2 separate regions of the Homo sapiens genome follow, and region 1 is linked to region 2. The links come from fine-mapping of genetic effects on gene expression. A gene starts in region 2. The other region holds a variant in brackets. All regions are shown on one strand. Distances are from middle to middle. Region 1 overlaps USP35 (ubiquitin specific peptidase 35). Region 2 holds the start of GAB2 (GRB2 associated binding protein 2).

What was found.
Region 1: its variant is fine-mapped to the expression of GAB2 in adrenal gland (GTEx, PIP above 0.99).

What each region holds. Positions count from the first base shown.
Region 1 is chr11:78,211,643-78,225,724 of GRCh38, forward strand. It overlaps USP35 (ubiquitin specific peptidase 35), which reads left to right. Exons shown (of 11, transcript NM_020798.4): 11 at 2,004-3,590. The coding sequence ends at 2,171. GAB2 (GRB2 associated binding protein 2) reads right to left here. Exons shown (of 10, transcript NM_080491.3): 5 at 13,466-13,560; 6 at 11,770-12,034; 7 at 10,463-10,553; 8 at 10,035-10,137; 9 at 8,677-8,802; 10 at 3,651-7,773. The coding sequence ends at 7,630. Among named protein-coding and RNA genes, the nearest start is that of USP35, 30 kb to the left of the region's middle. RefSeq lists a silencer at 11,701-11,790 and enhancers at 11,881-12,150, 12,191-12,270. The variant C/CTTAAATAAATAAA (reference allele first, on the strand shown) is at 3,039.
Region 2 is chr11:78,410,054-78,425,169 of GRCh38, forward strand. It overlaps GAB2 (GRB2 associated binding protein 2), which reads right to left and starts at 7,767. Exons shown (of 10, transcript NM_080491.3): 1 at 7,593-7,767. The coding sequence starts at 7,667. It overlaps LINC02728 (long intergenic non-protein coding RNA 2728), which reads right to left. Exons shown (of 4, transcript NR_120564.1): 4 at 13,929-15,116. RefSeq lists enhancers at 3,674-3,803, 6,753-7,507, 10,443-10,492 and silencers at 6,370-6,664, 7,127-7,256, 7,327-7,426, 7,537-8,156.

The DNA.
Region 1 (14,082 bases), 200 kb before region 2:
ATTCTGGCTTGCGTGAGATGGTATCTCATTGTGGTTTTGATTTCTCTAATGGTCAGTGATGTTGAATTTTTCTTTCGTACGTTTGTTGGCCACATGAATGAATGTCTTTTGAGAAGTGTCTGTTCATGTCCTTTGCCCACTTTTTAATGGGGTTGTTTTTTTCTTGGACATTTAAGTTCCTTGTAGACTCTGGATATCGGACTTAGGTCAGATGGGTAGTTTGCAAAAATTTTTTTTCATTCTGTAGGTTGTGTCTACTCTGATGATAGTTCCTTGTACTCCGCATAAGCTCTTTAGTTTAAGTGGATCCCATTTGTCATTGTTTGCTTTTGTTGCAATTGCTTTTGATGTTTCCATCATTAAATCTTTGCCTATGCCTATGTCCTGAATGGTATTTCCTAGATTTTCTTCTAGGGGTTTAATACCTTTGGGTTTTACATTTAAGTCTTTAATCCATCGAGTGAATTTTTTGTATAAGGTATAAGGAGGGGGTCGAATGTCAACATTCTGCCTATGGCTAGCCAGTTCTTCCAGCAACATTTATTAAACAGGGAATCTTTTACCCATTGCTTGTTTTTGTCAGGTTTGTTGAAGATGGTTGTAGGTGTGGAGTCTTATTTCTGAGTGAGTTCTCTATTCTGTTCCATTGGTCTATGTGTCTGTTTTTATACCAGTACTATACTACAAGGCTACAGTAAGCAAAACAGCATAGTTTGAAGTCAGGTAGGCATTAGGCTTCCACTTTTGTTCTTTTTGCTTAGGATGGTCTTGGCTATATGGACTTTTTGGCTCCGTATGAATTTTAAAATAGTTTTTTCTAATTCTGTGAATGTGAATGGTAGTTTAACGGGAATAGCATTGAATCTGTTAATTACATTGGGCAGTATGGCCATTTTCATGCTATTGAGTCTTCCTATCTATCTGTGAGCATGGAATGTTTTTCCATTTGTGTCCTCTCCTTCACTTCCCTTGTTAGCTGTATTCCTAGGTATTTTATTCTGTTTGTAGCAGTTGTGAATGGGAGTTTGTTCATGATTTGGCTCCCTGCTTCTTGTTGGTGTATAGGAATGCTAGCAATTTTTGCACATTGGTTTTTGTATGTATCATCTTGAGAGTTGCTGAAGTTGCTTAACAGCTTAAGAAGCTCCTGGGATGAGATAATGACATGATTCTGTATCATCTAGAAAACCCCATTAATGCAGTTAATAAGTGTGCTGAAGGAGGAGTACAGGGACCAGTTGAGTCTGAGGGGGAGGAGGATGCTTCGGGTGTGGGGGGAGGGGGTCCCACTACCCACGTGAGCCTCCTGTGTGACTCCCTAGAGTCAAGGGTGGCACTGGCATACTGAGCAGCTGGAACAGCATGGGCTTTGACCAGTGGGATGGGTGCCAGTGCCTGGAGTTTGTGTTTTGTGCGGGGGAATACAGCAACTGGTGTGGGGACACCAGACCGGGTGTCACCAACATCAACTCCTTCTTCCCCAAGGACACAGCCTATGTGCTGTTTTACCAGCAGCAGCCCAGGGAGGGGCCTGAGGCTGAGTCAGGCTCTCAGGGACAGCTTCTGCCATGCTGTCCAGATGGAGGCAGGGTGGCGGGTAAGGATCGCCATGAGGCTGACGTCCTGGTAGCAGGAGGATGGGCTTTCTCATAGGCAGAGCCCATTCCTCGTGATCATGAGGCCTGCGGACAGGTTCCCGTGTGGTGTGATATGACCCTCGAAGTCCTCAGACCTCTCGGTACCACATTAGGCCCTTGTCAGCTAGTCAGTCACACCCTAGTATCAGCTGGCTCAGGGACTAGAGTTTTTATTGAGAGGAGGGGGTCTTTTGAAGTCTTTTGAAGGTGTCCACCCCGGATATCCTGCCACTGAGCTGCAATGTCTCTGTGTGTCCAGGCCCTGGGGACCTAGAGGAAACATTGAAAGGTGTTGTGCTGGGTAGACTCACTCTGGCTTCAGGGTGTGAATTCTAAGTCTAAGTCTCCTCTCATCTGTGTTCCCAGGAGCAGGAGAAGGAGGCCCGGAGCAGGGCGGCCTACATCTCTGCACTCCCCACATCTCCGCACTGGGGGAGGGGCTTTGATGAAGACAAGGATGAGGATGAAGGCTCTCCAGGGGGCTGCAATCCTGCAGGTGGCAATGGTGGTGACTTCCACAGACTGGTCTTCTAATGTGAACCTGCTGCCAACCTGACCCCTTCCCTCCAGGAGCCAGGTAGGGCCTGAGGGAAGCTGTGGAGGCAGGCCCTACCAAGAGGAAGGATGGTACAGCTCATGGCACCTTAGTCCTCAGCCTGATGAAGGGTACACAGAGATTCTCTCAGATATGGAAGTAAGACCTAAGTCCCTTTCATTGGGGATCAGTCCCATTAAAACTTTACACCCAAGTGTCCTGGTTAACTTGAAGCAGCCGAGATGGGCACACACGGGTCTTTGCCTCCCCCTCCTTCCCTAGCAGGCTCCCCATGCGGGAAGATCTGATGATGTTCAGGAAACAGGCTAGACCTCAGCTCCAATGTTTTGACATCAAGTACTATTTTCCTTCCGACTGCTGTACGGTATAAAGCACAGCAGGATCCAAGCCTTGCACAAAGGGGTGGGGGGGGCAGTGTCTCCTCTGGCTGTCCTGTTTGTTTGTTTCTCATATGGGGGTGGGGGGTACCTGCACTGTCTGTACCTTTCTGAGAAGAACAGAGACCGAGACCTGCCCCCTTACCAAGCGCCACTGCATGGTTTTGGGGGGGGGGGCGGGGGGCTAGCTTCTCACAGCAGGAGGCCTTTGCCCCCACAGCCCCTCCACGCCTGCCTCAGGGCCTGAGAAGCCACCACTTGTATCCCCCTTGTGGTTAGAGTCCTGATTTTACTGCAAAGGTGTTCATGTTCCTTGTGAAGTGTGGGCTCTTAGGAAGCCTGTGGGCTCCTCTGAGCAGTTGGCCTTTGTAGCTGCAACAGCAGCCACCTGCAGGTTGGGTGAAGTGCCCTGACACTGCTGTAGCCCCCTTCTAACTTCTAACCGAAGACAAGACAGACACCCATGTT[C/CTTAAATAAATAAA]ATAAATAAATAAAAGTAAGCCTAAGCAAGAGATTGTTCTTCCTTGGACTCAGGGGCTGTGATGGCCACTGGGTTTTGCTCACGGGGTCTGGGGAGGCCAGGACTCAGCCTGCCCCCCAGTGACGTGTGAGATGCCACAGGGAGCCAAGAGCCCTCTACTGAATCTACTGAAGTGGGGTGTAAGTAAACGTGTGGACTGACTGACTTACTTACCTTACTGAGGGCTGGGTGATGCTGCCCGTGGAGAGGATGCACCTGGGAGGCAGCTCTCAAGCCTTTACCTACCTCCTTCCCCAGGGGCTGCCTGCTGTGATGGTGGTGTGGAGTTTGGGCCCAATGTCACAGACCCTCAAGATGTCACATCTAAGTGACCTGTGAAAGCAGCAGACAGACACGCCCAGAACCCATCTCTAGACGCCTAAGAAAGCTGGATGGGTAAATGCTAGTATGATTTCCACTTTACAACAGACGCTGAGGTAGAGAGCATTTGTTCTTATTCACAGCCAAGAAAAATACCCAATTATTTCCAAATAAAGCAAAAATTGGAACAGACTGGAGTGAGAACGGGTTCCACCACCAAGCCCCTCAAGACAAGATGGACACGGCAGCTGGTTCTGGGGTGCATTTCTAGTGGACTTTATTGTCCTGCTCCAACACCACAGTAGAAAGGGACCTGCAAGCTCCAAGCCTGTACCATGTGTCACCACAGCAAAAACATGACCCACTTGAACACACTCCTGTCCCACCCACCGGATAAATATGTTACAATTTAAAAAAAAGAATACAACAGAATAAATTAATAACTTAAGTGATTAGGCACCAACAGTGATTTGAAAATTAAATGTCAATTTTAAATGGTAACAAGACAAGAACTCAAGACTGGGCTTCCACTAGCCCATTTTCTCTTCCTGACAAACAGTGACAATTCTGCGTGAAATAATTCTAGATTTCAAGACACAAGTAGCCAACAAATACACAACACATGCCACCATAAATCACATGACAGCCTGGATCTCTTGGGGACCCCCTCGGCAGGTACCCCATTGTGGTCCCAGGTCCTAAACAGCAGGGCTAGTCCCAGAAAGACGACCCCCCACGGAAGGGCTTTAGCGCTCCTGAGACCAGTCTGGCTTCCCCTGCATTTTATGAAGGCCCAGATGGGGAAGGAAGAACTCTGGAAATGGGATAGGGGTGCTGGGCCGAGATGTCCCCATGGGAGAAGGGGCCAGAGGGAGGATGAGCTGAGCCCATGCTCCAGTAACTTCAGAATGGTTGTGCTTTTGTCACAGGAATGGGGCATACTTTGTTAACTTCTACATTGGAAACCACTAAAGTCAAGCTAGGAGGGGACTGGGGATAGGTACTGCCCACCCCAATCCCCCAGAAAGAAGTTACAGAGGAGGGAGTCTCCCCTTCAAGCAGCTGAGCACCAGCTGTGGATGGGACCTCAGCGCAGCTAATCCAACCTCCCATTCCACAGACAGGCAGATCAAGGACTTAAGGAGACACCATCTCCCTATTTCTCATCGTTCTCACTTGACTTAACCTTGCAGAAGTGGAGCTGGAAGTGGGTGAAGAAGGCTCCTTGGAGAGCCCCAGGCAGGGGGCCTGTGTGAAGCAGTGCTGAGTGGGAAGGTATCCCCTTTCCGTAGGCTCAGTCCTCTCCAGGCCCCCAGGAGAGGTGGACTTTGACCCATGGATAGGCCAAAGGACCAGTTTTTTCAACTGAGTTGACTCCTTTGTTGGAGGAGGTAGTGGGTGGAGGGTGGGGATATGCTAGATACGGCTGGTAGTTTGGGGCCTGTGAGCCAGAGCTTTGCTTTCAAAAGGTCAATTTCACCTCTCATCCTTCCATCTCTACCCCTACACTTGCACCCGAGGGATTTTGGTAGTTACCAGAATAGGGGGCTGGAAGGAAGCCTCCTGGTAGTTACCAGAATAGGGGGCTGGAAGGAAGCCTCCTGGGAGATTCGATTTGAACACCTCAGTCGCTCTCCGAAGATTCCAGCCAGGTCCACTCACATCATGGCACACTCAGAACATGCTCACATGTTTATGGGAGGCTGCAATAGTCTGGGCCCACTTGTGGCTGCTGCGGGTACAGGGAAGGCACCAGTTAAAAGCTCTGTCGTATGGGGCCCCTTGTAGGGGGCCTTTAAGGCACACATTCAGGGCTGGGCAGAGTGAACCAGCACCCTGCCAACTCTGCCCAGTGTAGCTACCACCACTGCTTCCATTCACTTATTGGAACACCAAGGCATGGCCCCTACACTTCTGAGTGGCTGGACCCATATGCTCAAAGGCCTTTTGTTCCCAAGACACAAGGCTTTCCAAGCCTCTCCTTCCTTCTTCCTCCACTGGACCCAAGCCCTGCCCTCCTCCTCTGTAAAAATCTGACTCATCCCCTTCTAAGGCCTACCTCAGGCACTCCCTTTTCCTAGAATCCACCTTCCCTGATCCCCCACTCCTGCCTCTGACACCAACCTCCCTAAGTACTTCCTCTGCCCTCCATCAGCATTTGAAGTCTCTGTCTGATGGCCATCACCACTGTCTCATGTCCTTGTCCTTTTTCTGATTGTGGCTATCTTAAGTTCAGGGAGAAGGTCTGATTGATTCTTGTGTCCTTAGTGCTTAACCCCAGAAACTGGAGACAGCAGCCATTAATAAATACTCCTTGAGTTGATCTAAACTAATGCTAGGAGGAGAGGTGCAGCTCTTGAAGAAATAACTTCTTCCAGGATGGGACTTAGAGAATGGCTAGGCCATTGGTCTGGTGAACTATGCATGCTCATGGGAGCTGAAAGGGGAATGGGGGCAGAGGACAGTGGTAGCTGTCCCCATCAAACATGGCAGGAAGTCATTGTTTGGGAGGAAGAAGTTCTGTTCGCCCCAGGGTAGAATGAAACGTCTGGTCTGTCCTGTTGCTTCTGAAACTCTTGAAAATTTAGTCAAGAACAGTCAACATAAAAACATTCAGATCCCCCACCCTTAGTTTAAGAGAAGGAACCTTGGGTGATGCCCTACACCCCGTCCCTGCTAATCTGATGGCCTTTCAAACCTGGGGAGGAGAGTCCAAGATGGCTCCTGGAATGCTAGGGAGCAACAGAGGGCGGATGAGCTGAGGAAACACTGGGCCGGCACCAGGCCAGACTCGTTCCTACCCTGCGATCTGACATACGCCACAGCCCATGGGCACAAGCTGTCAGCCATGCCTGATGTGGTCCTCTAGGCATCATTCTGCCCTGCTTTCTCCTTGTCCTGCCTGACCCACTGTCCCATCCTAGGAACGGTCCTCATGTCACACCACCATGCACACCACTCTTGCACGTGTCCCTCCTTCACTTTCTGCTCCACCCTGCACCCCCAAGGATTGCGTTGGGCACCCCCCAACTCCCAGGCCCTTTGGATGTATTTCCCCACTTGCTACATGGCCTTCACCACTGCTTCACATCTGTCTGCTACCTCTGTGCCCGACTTCCACTGCACTGCTCACTGCAAAGAAACTCACTTCCCGACCCCACTGCAGAGTCCCCTGCACTGCCCTGTGCCTCTGCCCAGCCTGTGCCTGTCCCAGGGTTCCCCTCAGTCCCTGCATCACCCCCATCCACACCACACTCCCTCCCATATTCCCCACCCCTTTACCATGTGTTCCTGCCCCATGTGCTTGGTCGCCCAGCTTGGTCCAAGCCTTCCCCTGTATGCTGCTTTCAAGGTGGGGCTGGCGGGGGCCTCTGAGGGGACTGGGGAAGAGGACTAGCCCTTGGGCCTAGAGTGGCCTGTAGCTCCAGAGTTCTGGGGACCCAGACCCCACAGTGTCCTTGTCATCTCCACCACCCGAGCTCCAAGCCCTGCTCCTTGCTGCTCTAGGTTGGCCATCAGTTTTCCCTTCCTTTTGTCCTTCATCTTCTGCCTCTGCACCCCACAGCAGCTGTCCTGCCATGGCCTCAGCCTCAAAGTGGGTTCCCTGCAGATGTCAGCTTTCCCTCTTCATCTGGGCATCTAAGTCCTTTACCCCTCAAGACCACTGCTGAGCCTCCGTCTCCACCATCTCCTCTTTTAGTGGCCTTGCTTCTCTCCTGCCAAGAAAAACAGGAATGAAAAAGTCCATTATCCACTTTGGTTTGCTGGTCCTTGACTCCCTGGGTTGGTGAGACTTGTCTTCTGGGACTGAAGGAGAGGTAGCCCAGTGGCCGGAGGGAAGATAGCTGAGGGCTGTGACTGAACGTGAGGTGTGGAATCTGGCTCAGAGCCCCAGCCCTTCCCTCCAAACATCTGGTAGAGAGTCAGGTCTAAAGGACAGGAAGAGGCTGAAGGATGCTTTTTGGAAGTAGCTCCTAACTAAGGTGGGTGGAGGCATGGCCATTACTGATAAAAATCACAGCTGGGCCCCGAGTGGGCAGAGGAGGTGCCTTGATCAGGCCCTCACCTCCCAGGGGAAGGGTTCAGGGTCCCTGATGTCAAGTGCTTTGAAGGCTGAGACTGGCAGAGTAGAGAGGAGGTGGATGGGAGGAAGAACGGGAGAGGGGAGAGGGGAGATGGGAAGGGCCAGCTCTGGAGATGCTGCCTCCTGGGCTCTGCGGTGGCCCTCTCATCACAGCTTGGCACCCTTGGAAGGCTCTGAGGACTGCCGCACGTCTGTCCACTCCTGCATGGTGTTCTGCAGGGCCTGGGTCTTCTCCTTGTCCACCTGAACGTAGTCCACCTTCTCATCAGAGGTGACGGATGAAGTAGATGGCTGAGGGGACAGAGTGGGAAAGAGGGAGTAGCTGTGAGTTACCAGTTAGGTGGGGAGGAAGAAGGTGGGCACGGGATCTTCCTGAGCTGTCTGAAGGGGAGAAGAGCATGGCCTCTGCCTGCCACTGACCAGCCTCAGGAGCCTGGCTTCTCTTTCTGAATGTGGGCTTTAAAGCTCAGACTCCAAACTCATCATCCCTCCTGCAGGATGTAGCAGCACCTGCCAGCCCTTCTTACTTCCCGGCTTCTGGGAGGACCCAGGCCCTTCCTTGGCCCTGGTGGATGGGTCCAGGCCTTCATCTCTGCCTCCACCCATCTCTGTCAGGTCGCTCATCCAGGGGAAGGAATTTGCTAGGTGCAAACAAACATCAGCCACAGGACTTTACGTGCTGTGCTCACTGCCACCCTGTGAAGGGGAACCATGCTGAGGCACAGCTCTGCACCCTTCTGTCTAGACTGCTTAGCTATAAGGATGCCTCCTGGGGAGGCTTTCCCAGGCCTGGAAGTCCCTTCTGAAGGCTGATGTATCGACGGCAGGGCTCTGGACCCACTCGAGAGCCCAGGACCAGGAGGCAGTATCCTCATTCCTGGATCTGTTGCTGATTCACTTTGTAACCTTAGGACAATCAGATCTCTGTGCACTCATTTGCCCATCTCTACAACACGGGGGATGGGCTGACTGATGAGGTTCTCTGACTGAGGGTACTGTGCTCTGAGAGCAGGAATAGGAGTCTTTAGACCTAGATGAAAGCTCTATGACTAAAGATGCATCATAAAAGCTGGGTACTGGAGCAGGAGGGAGGCTGAGTGCTGCTGTTCAGTGTTGAAGGCACCCTGGCCTCCATGATCTCTGCCTCCGGGACCCTGAGAGCTCTTACTGCCCCCCCAACTCTACTCCAGGCACCTTGCGGTGGGGGCTTGGGGAGCTCGGCTGGAAGTCCAGGGCCAGATAATCAACGCTGCCGGTGCTCTTCTTAGGGGCAGGACTGTTCGTGCCACTGGGAACGGGAGATGCAGACACTGGGTTTTGCTGTCACGAGGAGGAAAAAACTGTGAGTGACTGCAGAAAACAGACTAACCCACCACCCAGAAAAACACCTCTGGGAGTAAGAACACTGTTTCCCTGAGCCCTACTCTGACACATGCACCATGCTAAGGACTTTTCATGTTTTCATTTTAATCCTCATGACAATCCTGTAAGGTAGGTATGATTACTGTTGATACTGTTTAAAGCAAAGATGAAACTGTGGTTCACTTTACTTTCAGAGAAGTGACTTTGCCTGTGGCTGCACAGCTGTTGAGTGATGGGAATCAGGTCTGTTTTCTGACTTCCAAACCTGTGCTAACCCCTGTACCACACTGCCTCCTTTCTAGCACATCAGGCCAAGTCTCATCAACAGTGGCTCTCCTGAGACATCCAGCCTTTGCTTGCTGGCGCTTAAGAAAGGAGCACATTTCCTTTATGCACTGGAAAGTTTTCTTCTGTCGCACCAAATCAGCCCCTGTGAAACTCCCACCTGTGGCCTAGAGTGGGGTAGTCACCCCAAAGCAGCTTGCTCCCCCGCCTAGCTCCTCCAAGATCTGAAGAGGGTGGCTTCATCTCCAGGCTGCACAAGCCCGCATTTCTTCAGATGACACGCTCTAGGATCCTGTCCATCCAGGCTCGTGCTCTAGCAGAGCACCACCTCCTCTAGAACTTTCTGGAAGTCTTATTCTAATGAGAAGGTGATAGTCCTGTGTTCTGTTTGTTGGCTGCTTTACTGGTTGGTTAATTCATTCTTTCACTATCTATGCAGTGACTACCAGGTGCTGGGCAGTTACGCCCTTAATGGAAATCTCAGGGAAGAAATATCCTCCTCTGCCTGTGTTGATAGCTCTATTATGGCCTCACCAAAGTGAGTTATGTGCACGTATGCCTCTCACCACTGAGGAGATACCTCCACCACTGAGGAGATACCTCCAGCACTGCCTATCCAAGGGCACAGATCATGCCACCCATGTCACTGTCATGAGAGGCAGGCCCCTGCTCTTGAAGACCATGACTTCGTTGGGACAGGTCTCATGTCTTCCTTACATCTGATGACAACTCCTACTGCTTGATAAACAGGTGCTCAAGAAGGGTTTGTAGCAGGAGACTAAATCATGAATAATACAAGGAGTCCCTGGGCTGAGGTGAGTTAGCTAAGCTGGGAAGTGGGGAACTGAGGGGTGGGTCCCAGGGGACTTGAAAGGCGTCATTCCAGCGAAGCCCGAAGGACTCACCATAGGGACATAGTTCTCTTCGCTGTCTCCTGAGTCTGTGCTGGTGATGCTCTGGGTGGAGATGGGGCGGCAGTACTGGGAGGAGCTGGAGTTGAAGGTGTGGCTGTTGTGGGAAGGAAGAGTTAACACTGGGGAAGCTGCATGGCTGCTGCCATGTTTCTAGCCTCCAGCTGGGCCCTGACCCTCACACACCCAGACCTCAGCCATTAGAGCTGCACACTCCATCAGATTAAGATCTGATATAGGGCAGGTATAATTATTCTCTTTTACAGCTGAGGAAACCAAGCCACAAGACATCGAGACATGATCAGCTAATGATAGCGTTAGCATCAGAATCCAGCTGTCCCGGCCCACAGGCCAGCTACCACATCACTCATTTTCCCTAATGGCCCGACTCCAAGCTCCCACCCCCACACATACGCACTTACTTGGCCCTAGACCAAGACTTGGTGATAGGTGACTTGAAGGGGAGTTCATCGATGACGGTGTTGTTCCTCAGGTCAAGTGGTGTTGGCTTTGCTGGAGCAGGAAAAGAAAGTCTGGTAATCAGCCAGTAATGATAATGCTACACATACACACCTTATATATAACACATGAGCATGTTTATAAAGGCCTGCAAAGTCATTCCAGTTTCACACAGGGAAACTGACGCTCAGCGAGGTTGTATAATCTTTGCCCATATTGATGAGCCTTGAAGTCATGTCTTCAGATTCCAAATTATATATTCTTTCTGCTGTATCTATGGTAATTATATTTTCAGAATCAAAAGTGGGGACACAGGGTTTGACAACAGATTTTTCTCCCTCAATTTATGACTTCATTTAAAAATAAAAGACTATATATAAAATATATTTATATATTAATATATTAATATTTATAAAAATATATACTATTTATATATTAACACACATATATGTATTTTTTAAGACGGGGTCTCACTCTGTTGCTCAGGCTGGAGTGCAGCGGCGCAATCTCAGCTCACTGCAACCTCTGCCTCCTGAGTTCAAGTGATTCTCCTGCCTCAGCCTCCCTAGTAGCTGGGACTATAGGCGCCTGCCACCACGCTTAGCTAATTTTTATATTTTTAGTAGAGACGGGGTTTCACTATTTTGGCCAGGCTGGTCTCGAACTTCTGACCTCAGGTGATCCACTCGCCTCAGCCTCCCAAAGTGTTGGGGTTACAGGCGTACAGGCGTGAGCCATGGCGCCCAGCCAAGAGACCATATTTGAAGTATAGATGGTCACCGTGACTACTCCCTGCTGCTCCTGGCCAGGTCGGTGCAAGCCACAGTGGAGGAAGGTAGATGCCATAAGGGCTTGAGGGCTTCAGTTCCAAATGCTAAGATTTGAATTCCCTGTTGGCCAGACCCACAGGGGGCTATCTCTGCCTAGCTATCCTACTCCTCCCTTTGAATCCTTGCCACTGATCCAATGCCAGGAGAGTGAGATTGTAGCAGACGAGGACCTTGCCTGGTCTACATGCAGGGGGCACAAAGCTGACTTTACTGAACGCCTGCTATGTACCAAAGTACTATCCTAGATGCTCTCCTTTGCAGCAAACCTGGGAGGTAGGAATTACCATCTGCATTTCACAGATAAGAAAACTGAGACTCAGATTTTACATGATTTGCCCCAAGTCACACCTCTCAAGTCCAGGATCCACATGACCCCTAAGCAAATGGAAAGAGTCCCTAGCCACTGTCCAGAGATGGGACAGGGGAAAGAATGGACTTACCTTTCCGATCAGGTTTGAGGTTGCGGTTGACAGGGGGTGGCTGAATCTCACTTCCTCTGCTGGGGCCTCGGTGCACAGGAAGGGTTGTTGATGGGTAGCCAAGTGAGTCAAAGTGATGGGCCCCTGGGCTCATTGGGATGTAGACGCTCTGGGAATTATCACCTGCTCGTTCCATGGCCAACAGGGTGGAAGAACCTGGATTCATGGGCACATAGTTGTCTTCAGAATTGGTGCTGTCCGATCGGCCCACAATCATTTTCCCTGGCTAGGGAGAGGAACAGTGAAAGAAATACAGCTGTTACTAGCAAGAAGAAACAGGAAGGGGGTAAGACTTTGTAAATGAGGCAAGACAAGTCATGACTGGGTTAGCTATACTTTGAAGCTGTAAGGGAGACCTTGGGGAGACCAAATAAGAAAGCAGAGTAGTGGGAGGCTGAGGCAGGTGGATCACTTGAGGTGAGGGGTTCGAGACCAGCTTGGCCAACATGGCAAAACCTCCTCTCTACTAAAAATCCAAAGTATTAGCTGGGCGTGGTGGCATATGCTTGTAGTCCCAGCTACTCAGGAGGCTGAGGCACGAGAATCGCTTGAAGCTGGGAGGCCAAGGTTGTAGTGAGCCAAGATCATGCCACTGCACTCCAGCCTGGGTGACAGAGTGAGACTCTGTTTCAAAAAATAAAAAATAAAAAAAAGGAAGCAGAGTGGGAGACAAGAATATATGAGGTCTGTGGGCCCCTTCAAGCCTTCACGATCCTTTGGCATCCACTAATAATTTTTGATAAATCTAGAGTATAAAATATTCTTGGTGACTGGGTCCACTTGGCTTTCTGGACGCCTGACCAACACTGTGGGTGGCATAGTCCATAGACTGTAGGTTTGGTTCAGGACCTGCCCTCCACCTCAAGTCCAGACTCACCACTGGCAGGTCAGCATCTCAGGCCCTGGATCAGAACAAGGAGCATATTAGGAGTCCTGGCTCTGGAAGGTGAGGTCTGGGGCCAGTTGTGTTTCCCCAGTCCAGGTTTCTAAGTACCTGGGGCTCACTCCAGGCACCTAGGGGACCACCAAGCTGCAGTCAGAGCTTCTACAGAGTTGTGTGATACAGCAATCCCAGCCTTCCTCTAACTCTTGCTCTATCTGCCGTGACATACAACTAAGCTGCTTCTGCCTTGGTTACCTGATTTCACTGTCTTTTCAGTGGGCCTGAAGCCAGGCCCTGGTCTTCTTGCCTGACACCTTGGAGAACTGCGGTTAGCATCTTCCAGAGGGCAGCCTGGGATCCTGCACTCAAGCCATAATTCTGCCACTTAGCCTGACTGTGAGTACCACCCTTGCCTGGAGTCTCACACTGCAGCCTCCCTCCTGCATGTGAGGCCACGTGGGTAAGGTTGCTGTCTTAGAGGTTCCCCCACCGTGCAGCCTGGGTCTATTGCATTCTAGATCCTCTGCTTACCTACAAGGTTGGTGAACCTTGTAATCCAGTCTACCTTAGCACATACATTTCTTCCAGACTAGAATACTTATATCTTACTTGTCCAAAGACTCAACGCAGGGTTCTGAACTGAGACAAGAACTTGGGCAGGGTCCTAAGATGGAGACGCCATCAATCTTTTGGGGTTGTGCTTTTAATTCCATAAGGTGTGACCTTTTACCTAACCAGGCCGGCCTGAGGACCCTTGGGTTAACCCACACTCACCAGGAAAGAGCCAACTCCATCACTCATGGATTCAGCAGACCGGCCTGCACTCTCTCCACCACGCTGTGGGTACTCGTAGGTCTCACAGGAAGAAGCTGACAGAGGAAGGAGGATTCATAAGTACTCATGGTTGATTCATGTGTTGACACTTACCCATACCCTCACCAGTGTGGTTCAAGGTCTTACTGATACTCCAGAAGATACTACTCTCAACCCCAAATGATAAGGAATTTCTTCGAACACATCACTCCTCAGTTCAAAAATTCCTCCTGGGCTTCTAGATGTAGCTCCAGTGTTAGCATCTGCAGAGAAGCTGTCCTTGACTACTCTACCCTCATCTATGCACCTCTCCTTTGACTCCTACACCACTCACCTGTCCTGCTCACCCCAGCCATCACTTCTCTGAACACCACAGTAACAATACTTGTCCTGATTTATATGTGTTGGTTTTATTTTCCCAATGAGATGTAAGCTCTGAAGGGCAGGAACATGTTTTATGTATGTCTTTATCATCTCAGTTCCAAAACGGAGTATGACTGCTCAAATTGTCGATGGATTGAAAGACGGCAAAGAGGTCTAAACTAGGAGCTGGGACTCTAGGGTCTGAGTCTCATCTC
Region 2 (15,116 bases):
TAAAAAAAATATATATATACTGAGCAAATAAAAATTGAAAATGCAATTTATCAAAATTAGTGGGACACAGCTAAAGCAGTGCTGAGAGGGAAATTCATAGCAGTAAATGAATACATTAAATAAGAGGAAAAGTCTCAAATGAATAAACTACTATATAAAAAAATCAGAGGCCAGGTGCAGCGGCTCATGCCTGTAATTGCAGCACTTTGGGAGGCCAAAGCAGGCAGATCACTTAAGGTCAGGAGTTTGAGACCAGCCTGGCCAATATGGTGAAACCCTGTCTCTACTAAAAATACAAAAATCAGCTGGGCATTGTGGCACATGCCTGCAATCCCAGCTGCTCGGGAGGCTGAGGCAGGAGAACTGCTGGAACCTGGGAGGTGGAGGTTGTAGTGAGCTGAGATCGTGCCATTGCACTCCACCCCAGGTGACAGAGTGACATGCTGTCTCAAAAAACAAACAAAAAATAATAATGAAGCAATGTCAGTATGCAAGAATAAGGGTTAAAAAAATAAAGCAGTGGACCCACTACAGACCCTGCAGACACTGAAAGCATAATACAGGATACTGTAACTCCACTCACATGTATGTAACAACTTAGACAAAATGGACCAATTTGTTGAAAAATGTAAACTTCTATAATTCAGCCAATATGAAGTAGATAATTTGAAGAACCCCGTATCTATTAAAGAAATTGGATTAAAAATGTAAAAAATTCCTAACAAAGACATTTCCAGATCCAGATGGTTTAATCTGGAGAATTCTACCAAAGGTTTAAAGAATTATACCAGTTCTACACCATCTCTTCCAGAAGGCTAGACATGGTGGTTCACACCTATAATCGCAGCACTCTGGGAAGCCAAGGTGGGAGGACTGCTTAAGCTCCGGAGTGTGAGACCAGCCTGGGCAACGCAGGGAGACCCTGTCTCTACAAATAATAAAAAAAAAAATTAGCCAGGCACAGCAGTACGCAGCTGTCGTCCCAATTACTTGGGAGGCTGAGACAGTAGGATCACCTGAGCCCAGGAATTTGAGGCTGCAGTGAGCCATGATTGTGCCACTGTCGCCAGCCTGTGTGACACAGCAAGATTCTGGTGGGGGTGGTTGGGGGGGGGGATGGTGGAAGGAGAAGAAAATAAACGAAGGAAGAAAGACATATATAAATAAATGTAAAATAAATTCATGGACTGGAAGATTTAATATAGTAAAGCTGTAATTTCTTCCCAAATTGGTACACAGGATTAATGCACTTCCTATTAAAATCTCAGCAAGACTTTCTTTTTTTTGCATAAACAAGATTATTCTAAAATTTGTATTGAAAGGTAAAGATAATAGAATAGCTAAAACACTTTGAAAAATAAGAATAAAGTAGAGGAATCAGGCTACCAGATTTCAAGACTTACAATATAGCTAGAGTTGGCAAGATTCTATGGTATTTGCAGAGGGACAGACACATGGAAAAATGGACCAAAACAGAGACAACAGAAACAGACCCACACAAATACGTCCAACTGATTTTTGACAAAGACGGAAAAGCAATTCAATGGAAGTAGGATGGCTTTGTCAACAACAATGACAACAACAAAAGAACCTCAATCTAAGTCTCACATCTTACATGAAAATTAACTCACAGTGGATCACGGACTTAAAGGAAAAACATAAACCTGTAAAATGTGTAGAAAAAAAAAAACCAGGAAAGCCGGCGCAGTGGCTCACGCCTGTAATCCCAGCACTTTGGGAGGCCAAGGTGGGCGGATCACGAGGTCAAGAGATTGAGACCATCCTGGCCAACATGGTGAAACCCTGTCTCTACTAAAAATACAAAAATGAGCTGGGCATGGTGGCGCACACCTGTAGTCCCAGCTACTCAGGAGGCTGAGGCAGGAGAATCGCTTGAACCTGGGAGGCAGAGGTTGCAGTGAGCCAAGACTGTGCCACCGCACTCCAGCCTGGGTGACAGAGTGAGAATCTGTCTAAAAACAACAACAACAACAACAACAACAACAAAGAGAATCACTTGAACCTGGGGAGCCGAGATCATGCCATTGCACTCCAGCCTGGGTAACAAGAGCAAAACTCCATCTCAAAAAAAAAAAACCTATATATAAAATACTCAAATTCTTGAAGACATTTGACCAAAGAGGATATACAGATGGCAAATAATCATATGAAAAGATGTTCAACATCATTAGCCATAAGGGAAATGTAAATGAGAACTAACGGGTGAATGGTTAAATAAACAGACTGTGTGGTACATCCATACCATGAAATACTACTTAGCAATAAAAAACAATAACTATTGATGCATGAAATGAGGATGAATCTCCAGAGAATTATGCTGAATAAAAAAAAGTTCAAAATCTTAAGTACTGCATGAATCCATTTAAATAACACACATGAAATATCAGAGAACAGATTAGTAGTTGTCACAGATTAAGGATGTGGTAGGGGTGGGATGGTAGTGAATACGATTATAAAAGGGCAACATAAAAAATCCTATCATGATGGAAATGCTCTGTATCTTGACTGTATCATTGTCAATATACTGTTGTGATACTGTACTATAATTTTGCAAGATGTTACCATTAAGGAAAACTGGATAATGGCTACATAAATCTTTGTTTACTATTTCTTACAACTAGATGTGCATGTAGAATTACCTCAAAATGAAATGTTTAATTTTTTTAAAAAGCCCAGGCTTTAGGACAAAGCTAGATGACTTTGGGTAAGTTGCTTCCCTTATTATAGGGCTAAATTACTACATTAAAAGATCAATGGTCTAAGCATAGTGCCTGGTACAAAGTAAGTGCTCAACAGATGGCTACTAAAATAATCCTAAAAGTCATGGCAGTGGGGATGAAGAAGCGTATAACAAGATATTTAGATGATACCACTAATGGGTTTTGGTGACAGATTAGATGTGGGATAGTGGGTGACGGGGAGTCAAAGATGATGCCCAAGTTTCTCATCTGAGCAAGTAGGTGCTTAGTGGCACTGTTTACTGAGCAGATGTGGAGTGAAGAGATGAACAAAGAAGAGTTTAGTTTTGGAAGTGGTGAGTTTGTGTTGACTGGGAAACATTCAAATAGAGATGCCCAGTTAACAGTTGGATATGTAAGTCTGAAGTTCAGAACACAACTCTGAGATGGAAATTTAACTTGATGACCACCATGCAAATGATAACTGAAGCCAGTAGAATGGACAAGGTTGCCAAAGGGGAGAAACCACACAGCCACTATGACTATAAAGGAGCTTCAACCTTTAAGGACTGGATAAAAGGGTCAGTCTAGCAAAGGAAATATAGAGTAGCCAGAAAAGGAGAAATAACAGGCATTTATAGTGTCAGCCAAGATAAGAGGAAGGTGTTTTAAAAAAGAGTGGTCAACTATGACCAAGCAGTGAAGAGATTAATTAAAATGAGGAGTAAAAAATCATCCTCTGAGTTTAGTGACCTGGGTATCGCTGGTGCCTTTGTCAGAATAGCTTTGGTGAATAACAAAGTAGGTTTCCACTGGAGCCGACTGAGAAGAAGGTGGGAGAAAGGAAGACTGCATAAACCACCACCAAGTTTATCCCTGAAAAAAAGTAGGTAGTACAGAGAGGGAAAGAAGTTGAAGATGTGTTACAGGATAAGAATTATTTGAGTAGGGAGGAGAAGATATGATTCAAAGTATAAGTAGCAGGATTAGCTCAGATAGAAGTGGCACTTCATCTACTCTAAGAAAAGGAAACAAGAAAGGAACCATGCAGGCTGGGCGCGGTGGCTCATGTCTGTCTGTAATCCCAGCACTGTGGGAGGCCGAGGCGGGTGGATCACCTGAGGTCAGGAGTTCAAGACCAGCCTCACCAACGTGGTCAAGCCTCATCTCTACTAAAAATACAAAATTAGCCAGGTGTGGTGATGCATGCCTGTAATCCCAGCTACTTGGGAGGCTGAGGCAGGAGAATCGCTTGAACCCAGGAGGCAAAGGTTGCAGTGAGCCCAGATCGTGCATTGCACTCCAGCCTAGGCAACAAAAGTGAAACTCTGTCTCAAAAAAAAAAAAAAAAAAAAGGAAGAAAGAAAGGAACTATGCAGATACAAGTAAATTTGAAAATGTGGCCATTCATCGTACGTACAGACAACTACTCCCTCATCATTTCAATTTTCCTTTGAAGGAGAAGGCAAAGCCATTGCTAAGACTGAAAGACTGGATTAATTTTTTTTTCTGTTTACTGGATTTTTATTCCAAGCACCTGATCCAGTGCCTGGGACATAGATTTAATAAGTATATTTAATAAATATAATGGAAATAAACAATTACTGTTACCTTAATGCAGTAGTTCTTTACAATTTGTGCACAACTTTCTTCAAGTTAGCCACTAGGGGGTAGTCTGCCAATCTTATTCCCTCAATCTTTTAATCCAGTGAAATTGATAGAAAACTACAATGCAGTGTAGGTCATATTAATAAAATGTTTTTCCTCAAGAAAATTCTGTTTAATAATTATATACATGTACGTGTGTATGCATTTGCATGCACGCGCATACACACACAAATACACTGAGGCACGATGGGAGGGTTGTTACTTCTGCCGGCCTCCCACTGCAGCCATATCAGGATGCCCCAGAGGCAATAGTCAGCATTTTCCAGAGACACTTTTTGCAATTTCTCCAGGGCACTCAGTAAATAGCAGATAGGTCTCTTATACTTATACTTAATTAACTAGAAAAGGCTGATGAAAAAAATCCCTGAAAACTAATTGCTCAAACATTTGCCTTTGCTTCTTCTAAGATGTTTTTCCCCTCTACACCTTCCCGTCTTTCCGAATTAAGTAAGTTTTTTTGTTTTTCTTTGAAATGGAGTCTCGTTTTGTCACCCAGGCTGGAGTGCAGTGGTACGATCTCGGCTCACTGCAACCTCAGCCTCCCGGGCTCACGCGATTCTCATGTCTCAGCCTCCTGAGTAGCTGGGACTACAGATGCCCTCCATGACGCCCAGCTAATTTTTATATTTATGGTAGAGACGGGGTTTCACCACATTGGCCAGGCTGGTCTCGAACTTCTGACCTCCAGTGATCCACCCGCCTCAGCCTCCCAAAGTGCTGGGATTACAGGCATAAGCCACTGCGCCCAGACTTCAAATTAAGTCAGTTTTTTAAAAAATCGTTTTAAATAGTTATAACCTAGTTCAACTACTTTTTCCCCTTATCACATATGCTCGATGTATTCTTATAATGAGGATTTCTCAATCTACAATATAACACGCCTATGATGTATACCAGAAGCAGCAGCTACTTTGGGGTAAATATACAGCCATGGGGCTGGGAAATACTTTCCAAGCTTGGTTCTAATGAACTCGGGCCTCTACTGAAATAAGCAAACTAGCAGAGTTTTAACTTACAACAGGATGCAAAAATTCTGAATACCCCAAAAGAAAAGTAGATGTAAAGGCATACTGTTCCCCAGAGGCTTAAGGTTACACATATCACCAGTTTCAGTTAGGGGGAAACTGAACTTCCGAAGGGGCAGAGGCTTCCAGTCATGTAAGTGAACACATCACATCCTAACCTAAGAAAAGCTGTTACTTAAAGCTGTTAAGGTCTGACACCTGATGGGCTGAAGGTACATGGAAGATGGGAAAGAGAGGCTAAGGCCATCATACGACTAGATTCGTTCAAATCAGTGAAAAAGGTGCTTGACCCAAATGCCTCCAAACCTGGTTATTTTGAACTAAAGTTGTTTGGGAACAAAAACACCCAAGAAATGGGTCATAGAGTCTGGGTGAGAGTTCAAGGAGCGATAAGTCAAATGTAGATACAGTGTCATACTGTTTGCAAATTGTTTCAAAAACAACTTTCAAGGTTCTTTAGTGTATAGTGTTCAAACTTGAAAATTAAGGGTCACTTTTTTTTTTTTTTTTTTTACTGTGGACACTGTATTCCACTAGCTTGTATGGAAATCTATTTGTATAGATAATTTTTGGAAGCTCTTCGGGACAAAGTTTTTAAATTATTTATAAAATTGTTAATAGTAAATCACTGCTCCTTAATCCTAATTAAAATATTCAACCTTCCTAACGAACTGATACAACCCTGAAGAGGAAAAAAGTTTATTTCTTAATAATTATACTTTGGCTACATAGACACTCCTAAAAATGAGCTTCCGAACTGAGATGAACAATTCACTGCTTCATTCCTCCTATAAATCCACGTCCACTTTCAAAACTCATGTGCTAAATCCTTAGATTTTTTTCCCCCAGCAAACATCTACCTAAGAGCCTGATTTCATTGACACACACTTGTACTCCGCAACAACAACACTTCCTTTGAAAAACAGAATGTCACTTCCTCAGTCCAGAGGCCAGAAGTCCCTTGATTCTGATCTGGGGAGCCAAGACAGGAAATTCTGGTAGGCTTCTGCCTCTCCCCCCATGGACAGCCACTGGTGCAGCTGACAGAGGGCAGGGTCTATTCCGAGCTCCCTTGATGCACTGCAGCTGGAGGCAACGGCTCCCTTCCAGGCTGTGGGAGTGATCCCGGAGTTCGGCACCACAGCCCGTTAAACAAGGGCATTTCATGGGAAACGGAGAGGGAGCAGATGAGAGACCTTGAAACCTTCCAGCAACCTTACCCCCACTTCCAAACTCCCGCGACTACCCCAAGACCATTTCGGCCAAATCTCAGTAACTGGCACCATCTTGTACTTTGACCTCACCAGGCAAGGCATCCTCTGGGGAGAGGGGTTAAAAAAAAAAAAAAAAAAAGCCAGAACTCCACGGCTCAGCGCCACGCTGTTCCACCTCCCCCAGGCTGCCAGTTCCCCACCTAGAGGGAAAAGGCTGTTCCAGCGATCTCAGTAAACACTGTCGGTTGGCAACACCTGGCCGCGGAGAGCCTCGATCTCTCCCGACCCCAGACACCCGGGAGCTGCCCGGTCCCAAACCCGGGCCAGCCACGGGGACCAAACTGCAGTGTCACACCGGGGTCGGGGGGAGGCGCCTGTGAGAGACGAACGGAATAAAGGGAAAGAAGGGGGACAAACAAATGAGTCACTTAATACAAGGGCTGCACATGCCGCTGACGCTGCCGGTGATGCAGCCGCGGACGGAGGGAGGCCGGCGGCCGGGAGGGGCAGGCGGAGAAAGGGAAGGAGAGGGCGTGAGGCGCTCGCCCTTTGTGGGGCCGTCCGCGCGGCCCCACAGCCTACGCCCCCCTTTCCCGCCCTCTCCCCGACCCTGCGGGCTGAAGCTGCTCGGGGCTGCCGCGGAGCCCCAGCCCCGAGAGTCAACTCTCTCGGTCTCCAGAAGCCATCAATACAAAACTTCGACACTGTATTTAGTTCACGAGCAGACCGGCTTGGGAGGCGCCGCAGCCGCACCCGCCTGGCGGAGCAGGAGCCGCAGCCTCAACCTGCCGCCCGCCCCGCCCCTCGGCGGCCCACCTGTGACAGGTGTGCAGGTGCCCCACACGCCCCCGGCCGCTCCTCGCCCCCGGCCCCCCGCGGCTCCGGGCCCGAGCTCCCCAGCCTGCCGCCCCTCCGGGAGTCCCCCGCCCCTCCGCAGGCCCCGGAGCGCCCCCCGCCCGCCCCTGGGCGGCCGCGCCCGCACTCACATAGCGCCTCAACTTCTTCTCGGGAGGCGATTTCCTCAGCCAGCCGGTGCACACCACGTCGCCGCCGCCGCTCATGCTGCCGGCCTGGAGCCCCCCGCCGGGTCGCGCGGACGAGGGCGCGGGCTCGGGCAGCTGGGGCAGCGGCCGGCGGTGCGCAGCTCGCGGGAGGCCAGGGGCGGGGCGGGCGGCCCGGCGGGGACTAGGCGGCGCGGCGCGGCGCGAGCCCGGCAGCCTCGCGCGCGCCCGCTCCCCCGCCCCGAGCGCGCGCAATCCGCACTCTCCGCCCGGCCGCCGGGGGAGCAGCTGCAGCAGGAAGGCCGGCTCGCTCGCCACGCCCGCTCCCGCCGCGCCCCCGAGGCCGCCGCGCACGCGGACGCGGGGCTAGGGACCCGCGAGGATACAGAAAGCCACCGCCGCCGGCGCGCCCCGGAGTCTCGCTTTCTCCTGAGGCCCCAAGCCGCGGGCGCGGAGGCCAGGGAGGCGACCGCGCCCCTGGCGCTGGCGGGTGTGAGGGGAAGGGACTGCGCGCCCTCGGTCGTCGATCGATTTTTCACCGAGCGTCGACGGGGAAGGGATACTAGGGCTGCTCACATTTCCGATACATTCTGCGGGTCAGGTTCCGGCTGAAAGGAGGGACCCCTTCCCAGCAAGAAGCTCCTTAACTCTGGCGTCCCTCGGCGGGAGGAGGAGACGGACCTACTACGCGCCGGAGCCTTTGCTTTTGTAGCTTACAGGATTGTCTTCAGTATTGTTCCTATTTTATGGACAGCCTAAGGGCAAGGGCTTGTACAAAGCCGAGCCAATTTTCCAATTCAGGTGTGTGGGGGAGGAGGGGTCCCGGTCATCTGCTATTCAAAATGAGGGCATTGCCTTAATGGGATCGACCTGGGAGCCTCTCATTGCCTGGAAACCAAGTCCAGCTGACTCCCTCCTACACTGCCTCTGGGAAAACACAGTTTAGTATAGAAAATTCGCATGATTTGTAGAATGGAAGAAGCAAAACTAGTCAATGTATTTCATAACGAATTGGAAGGCAAGGTCAAGTGCAGAAGAACAAGAAATTGGGGTCCAAATTCCCCAACGTTCCCGCTCATTGACACAGGCTATGAGACCTCTGTTTGTAAATATAATGGTATCCCAGATGTACGTGGAAGCACACAACCCCAGCACTTCAGCGGGAGGGGGGAGAAAAAAATCTTTTGTACGAGCTCTTTTCTCATCACAAAGTGTCTCTCTAAGCAGCATTAAAAGGCAGGTCCTCCCTAACTTCTCTGATAAGTGGATAGTAACCTGTTTATTCAATGGGGAACCGTGCTGTGTGGACAGATGAATTGGAGAAGCAGCATCTTGCAGTGCCCCACACAACCTCAGACTAAAGCTGTTTTGTTTATTTCTGTCTCTGTGCAGCTGAGTTGTTTCAAGCAGTTGGACATCATTTGGTCCAAAAGATCTTGATTGGGTTGGGGGAAGTTCACCCTCCTCAATTTGGAAAAGCGAATCCCCTACCACGTACTTAGCTCTTCTAGATACCCTGGGAGTTTTAGCGGTCAGTCCCCTGGATCTAACATTTCACTGACTTTCTTCAATATCCAGTGTGCTGCTGGATGGGAAGTAAAGCCAGAACTGGTAGGCTGGGACCACAGCTCCCTTAACCTTACAATTTAGGGATCCTTAAGTCACGTATGAAGGGCCACCACCAGAATGATGGCCATTTTAACTTCTGGCTTTAAGTACCTTAAATCCCTGTAAGACAAACAACACTTAACGTCTGCCAAATCAATCAGGAGGCGGTGACTTCCAACCAAAATAAAACTATCCTGACTTCATTCACATCTGAGTCATGGTGCCAAGTCCCAGAGATTGCAGAGTCGGAGAAATCTGCATGGTTTGGCTGCAGCTGAGGTTTGTGATGCAAGTCAGGCATACGTATGCCCTATCTTCCCCCAGAAGAGTAGTCTTACGTATCCTTTGATAGTTACATGATTCAATACACAGACTGGAAGACTGTTTAGCAAGAGTTAGTGGGGGTTAGGTCATATTCTGCCAGAAATTCCTTAAAGTCTTATTTTGTTTGCTTAGGAAAAGATGGTGTTATTTACAATTTCATGTGGAAATGGAAAAGTTTGATGTTTCTTGTTTGGCCAATGGCAGGAGGGACCTTGAAATATGAATACAACAGTCACCAGGTATCGACTTTGGGAAGGGTTCTCTGAACACCCCCATCTTTCCCCAAAGGTTAAAGAAAGGAGCTTTTTTTTTTTTTTTTAGACGGAGTCTCGCTCTGTTGCCCAGGCTAGAGTGCAGTGGCGTGATCTCCGCTCACTGCCAGCTCCGCCTCCCAGGTTCACGCCATTCTCCTGCCTCAGCCTCCCTAGTAGCTGGTACTACAGGCGCCCGTCACCACGCCCAGCTAATGTTTTGTATTTTTTTTTAGTAGAGACGGGGTTTCACCATGTTAGCCAGGATGGTCTCGATCTCCTGACCTCGTAATCCGCCTGCCTCGGCTTCCCAAAGTGCTGGGATTACAGGCGTGAGCCCGGCCGAAAGGGGCTTTTTTACTGTGCTCTTCAGCTGGACTCCCACCCTGCGTCCCTCTTGCTGCTAGTGCCCATCTCGGGCTGTGCATAGGAAGCAAGACTGCTGCTCAAGTCCCTGGCTGCACCCTGGAGTGGCTCAGTCTTTTGAGCCTGAGAGGCGTGCCAGGCCTGGAAACAACCCTTGGACGGAAAGTTCCTGTCTGGGCTTTTACTAAGTCCTCTCCACTCCCTGCTGTGTGTGTCTGTTTAAATGGTCCCCGGTTTTTGCTGGGAAAAAAATGGAAAACAAATCATTTGAATGATTTACATGAAGATAGGCGCCATCTATCGGAACCAGTTGGGGTGACAATCCCCCCACCCCCAAGCCCTGAGCGGACATGCATCACTAGCCCATAATTTAGGCAATTTTGTTTAAAGACCACTGGTATTTCCTGGGGGAATTAATCGCCGGCTCCAAGAGTGCTTTGGGTCATTAATCTTATATTCTTATTAAATTCTCAGGAAATGACTATCTTATGAGGAGGGAGCACTGCAGAGATTAGAGAAATGCACACTGGGAGAGCATGGGTACCACTTTGGCCCCCGCTCATAGCTACTCCCACTCCCCACAAAGCCTGGGGTTCTAAAGGGTGCACTGTGGCTTTGAGTGTCGTCAGGGACATCCGTCGCTGCATCCGTGCCTGTCTGGGAGTTGAGGGTTTGTGGCCAGCGGCAGGTGCATGGCTGGTGGAATGCTTTCAGAAACGGGTTGAAGGGCTGGAAGGAGAGCTGTCCTCAACTGCACACCAAGCTTGTGTGATTAATACCACCCACGCCAGGCCTGACGTCAGTGATTGGACTGGGGGTGGGGATGGATGTTTGTGTGCTAGCCCTTCTGCTTTTTCTCCCCTTCAATTTAGTTGACAGGTTAATTTCAGAACTGAGTGCTGCTTACGAAGGTCAGTGTGACCAGCTGAACCACCTCAGCTGGTGTCTTTCAGGACACTCATCTCTCAGGCATATAAAGGTGTATGCTTCTTTAACCCCTAGTTACTTGAGGCCCACATGGTTCCCTATATCAAATTACCTTAACTTACTCAAGTCAACTCTGGGCATCTGGTTGAGGATGAGATCTGGAAGTGGGAATGGGGTGGGGTTAAAGACCTAATTGGGTTTCCTCCCTGTCTGTGGCTAATAGTCTGAGAGTTACTTGACACTATACCCAGTGGGAGACATTTTGAAAATAAACTTTTGGCCGGGTGCGGTGCCTCATGCCTGCAATGCCAACACTTTGGGACACTGAGGCGGGTGAATCACTTGAGGTCAGGAGTTTGAGACCAGCCTGGCCAACATGGTGAAACCCCAACTCTACTAAAAATACAAAAATTAGCTGGGTGTGGTGGCGGGCACCTGTAATCCCAGCTACTTGGGAGGCTGAGGCAGGAGAATTGCTGGAACCTGGGAGGTGGAGGTTGCAATGAGCTGAGATCGCACCATTGCACTCTAGCCTGGGCGACAAGAGTGAGACTCTGTCTCAAAAAACAAACAAACAAACAAAAAAAAACTTTCTTAGAGAAAAGCTTGAGCAATCCCATTTTCCCAATTTCTCCTTTGAAAATAACCAGAATCAGTGCTAATGGCTCTGTGGCAGTTAGGCTCCCACGACTTTGCTGCTGACACTGGTAAATCAGTTGTCATAATCCACCAAGAACAAAGACTGTCAAGATCCTTGAGAAAGTGCTGTAGTCTTCCAAACCACACTCTGCAATGCTGGCTCCTTTTATTTGCTCTGCAGAGAGAACTCCTACCTTGAATTAGATCTTGAACATACGTCAAGACCTCTTTCCCTAAAACTGACTGTCCCCATTCTCCAGCAAAGTTGTTCACTCTTTTCTTGGTATCCACACTGCACTTATATAAATTGGATTATCACACTGTACAGCAAATATTTCCTTGTCGAGGAATTGTGAGTTCCTTGAAGACATGAATGTGTTTTTCTCACTTATTATTTTTTTAGAGACAATGTCTTGCTATGTTGCCCAGAGTGGTCTCAAACTCCTGGGCTCAAGTGATCTTCCTGCCTTGGTGTCCCAAAGTTCTGGGATTACAGGCATGAGCTACCACATCTGGCCCTTCCTCATTTTTGTATTCCCAGAGCTTCCCAGCATGGTACCAGCACAGAATAGATGCTCATTAAATGTTCATTGTGAGAATGAAGGAACCAACCCTTAAAGGATGACAGGTTGGGGCTGTAGACTACTGGAACATCTAGAACTCTCTGATCCATACAAACCAGAGAATAGTATTTGTGAAGGTACCTATAAGTGGCTGGAGTGGTTTTTTTTAATAAAAATTGTCAGATAACATCGATGTGTTTATTATGTACAATATGATGTTTTGAAATATAAATACAAATACATAAAATACACTGTGGGATGGTTAAATCTAGCTAACTAACAAATGCATTAACTAATATAGTTATCATTTTTGTGGTAAGAACACTTAACATCCACTTTCTTTACATTGCGTTTAAACCCACAGGGACGGCCTAGCTGGAAGGACTTAGCAGGCTGAGGTAATCCTGTGCAGTTCCACTTTTAAAAATGGTTGTAACTCGACATAGAAAGGAACGAGATCATGTCCTTTGCAGGGACATGGATGGAGCTGGAAGGCGTTATCCTCATCAAACTAACACAGGAACAGAAAACCAAACACCGCATGTTCTCACTTATAAGTGGGAGCTGAACAACGAGAACACAGGACACAGGGAGGGAAACACACACTGGGACCTGTGAGTGGGTAGGGGGTTGGGGGAGGGAGAGCATTAGGAAAAATAGCTAATGCTTGCTGAGCTTAATACCTTGGTCATGGGTTGATAGGTGCAGCACACCACCATAGCACACATTTACCTATGTAACAAACCTGCACATCCTGCACATGTACCCTGGAACTTAAATTAAAAAAAAAAGAAAAATTCCAGAAACATGTGAGAAAATAAGATTCCCCCGAAATCTTAAAAACAAAAACAAAAACAAAAAAACATGGCTGTAACTCTTGGATAGTTTCAGAAAACAATGACTCCTTTTAACCTTTTAACTGGTACCCCCAGATTCCAGAGAACCAACTTTGTCAACCCTTGGTTTCCAAACTCTGACACTGTTGTACACTCTTTACACACCCTCCTTTGTGGGACTACAGAATTAAATCTCTTTGCGGTTACTCTGTTATCTGGCTTCACTGTGACAATCCTACAGGGGTTTAGCACTTAACCCCTTGTACCAGATGCAACACTAGTGAAGCTGGAGAAAACCATGTCCCCTGAACTCAAAGTGGCTTTATTCAACAGATGACCAGAAACGTCATTTCCTTCTGCACCTGATAAATTGCATAGTAACTGTGCAGGCTTGCTAGTCTTTGTTTTGCTGGGAACCTAGAGGCCTCAGGATTTCACCTCATCTAACTATATAATTCTACCAGAATTACCCAAGATGATTGTCCGACAATATAGCCAATGATGTGCTGGCAAATATTTTAAAATTGGCTCCCTGGTGGTGTTGGTGGGTGCCTTGATTTACAGTATATGCCAACTGTTGTGGCATAAATACTCTGCCAGCCATGGCCAGTTTTAAGCTATCAAGTTAATGTCCTTGAATACAGAGTTAAGAGATACACAGTAATACACCATTATTTAGTATTTCCAACATAAAGACACAATAGACATAAATAACACCAAGAACACAATAGTAAAATGTAATTAGCCAAGTGATGAGTTTGGGGTAGTTACTACCTTTCTTTTTAATATAACTTATTTAATTATAAGTTTATATAACTTAATTTTTAATTAAGATATTCACGTATCACAAAAGTCACCATGTTAAAGTTTATAATTCATGGTTTCTAATATATTCATCAACTTTGACAACCACCACAGCTATCTAATTCCAGAACATTTTCATTACCCCAAAAGAAACACCATATCCATTAGCAACTCTCCATTCCCCCAATCCCATCAGCTGGCAACCGCTAACCTACTTTTCATCTCTATGGATTTGCCAATTCTAGACATTTCACATAACCATATTCATACAATATGTGACCTGTGTGTCTAACCTCTTTCGCTTTGTATAATGTTTTCAAGTTTCATCCATGTTGAAGCACTTGACAGTTCTTTATATACCGCATTTTATCCATTCATCAGCTGATGAACATTACAGTTGTTTCCACTTTTTGGCTATTATGAATAATGCTGTTGCGATCATTCCTGTACAAGTTTTTGTGTGGACATACGTTTTCAATCTACGTATTTATCTAGGAGTGAAAATGCTGAGTCATATGGTGACACTGTTTAACTTTTTAAGGAACTGCTGACCTTTTTTCCACAGTGGCTACACCATTTTACATTCCCATCAGCAATGTATGAGGGTTCCAATCTGTCCACATCTTTTCCAATGCTTATTTCCCTTTTTTTATTACAACTTAATTTTAACGATGTTCTACTTTAACAACCATCTTGCAAAATTCTTCACAATTGAACAGTCTACTCTCCTGGGTTGATACCACTGCACACAGCCACCAAAGAAAATCTCACCACCATCTCACTAGTCAGTTCCACTTCTTTTTGCTGGCAAGAGCAATACTCAACAGATTTGAATTTCCTTCCTCTTACATCCTTCCTATAGAAAACTGAAACAAAAGATCTCAGGTTCCCTTCTCTTTGGTAATTGAGATGACTTTTGACTGCTGGAGAATCACAAGGTTTTCAGCTCCCACCAGGCACCCCAGCAGAACAGGGTTTGTTTCCCTCCTACATTTGTGTTGAGAAACAAAACTAAACCCAAAATGTATCTTAGTGACACCCAGATGTATCTTCCGGAGGAGCTCTCAAGCAGTTGCTTCAACAGGGCAAACAGCTGTGGTCTGTTTCAACATAATTTGATGTAATCAGGGTTAATTCTGATGATGTAGTAACTCTGAAGACTGTTTTTTAACTGGATTATTGTTGGGTCAA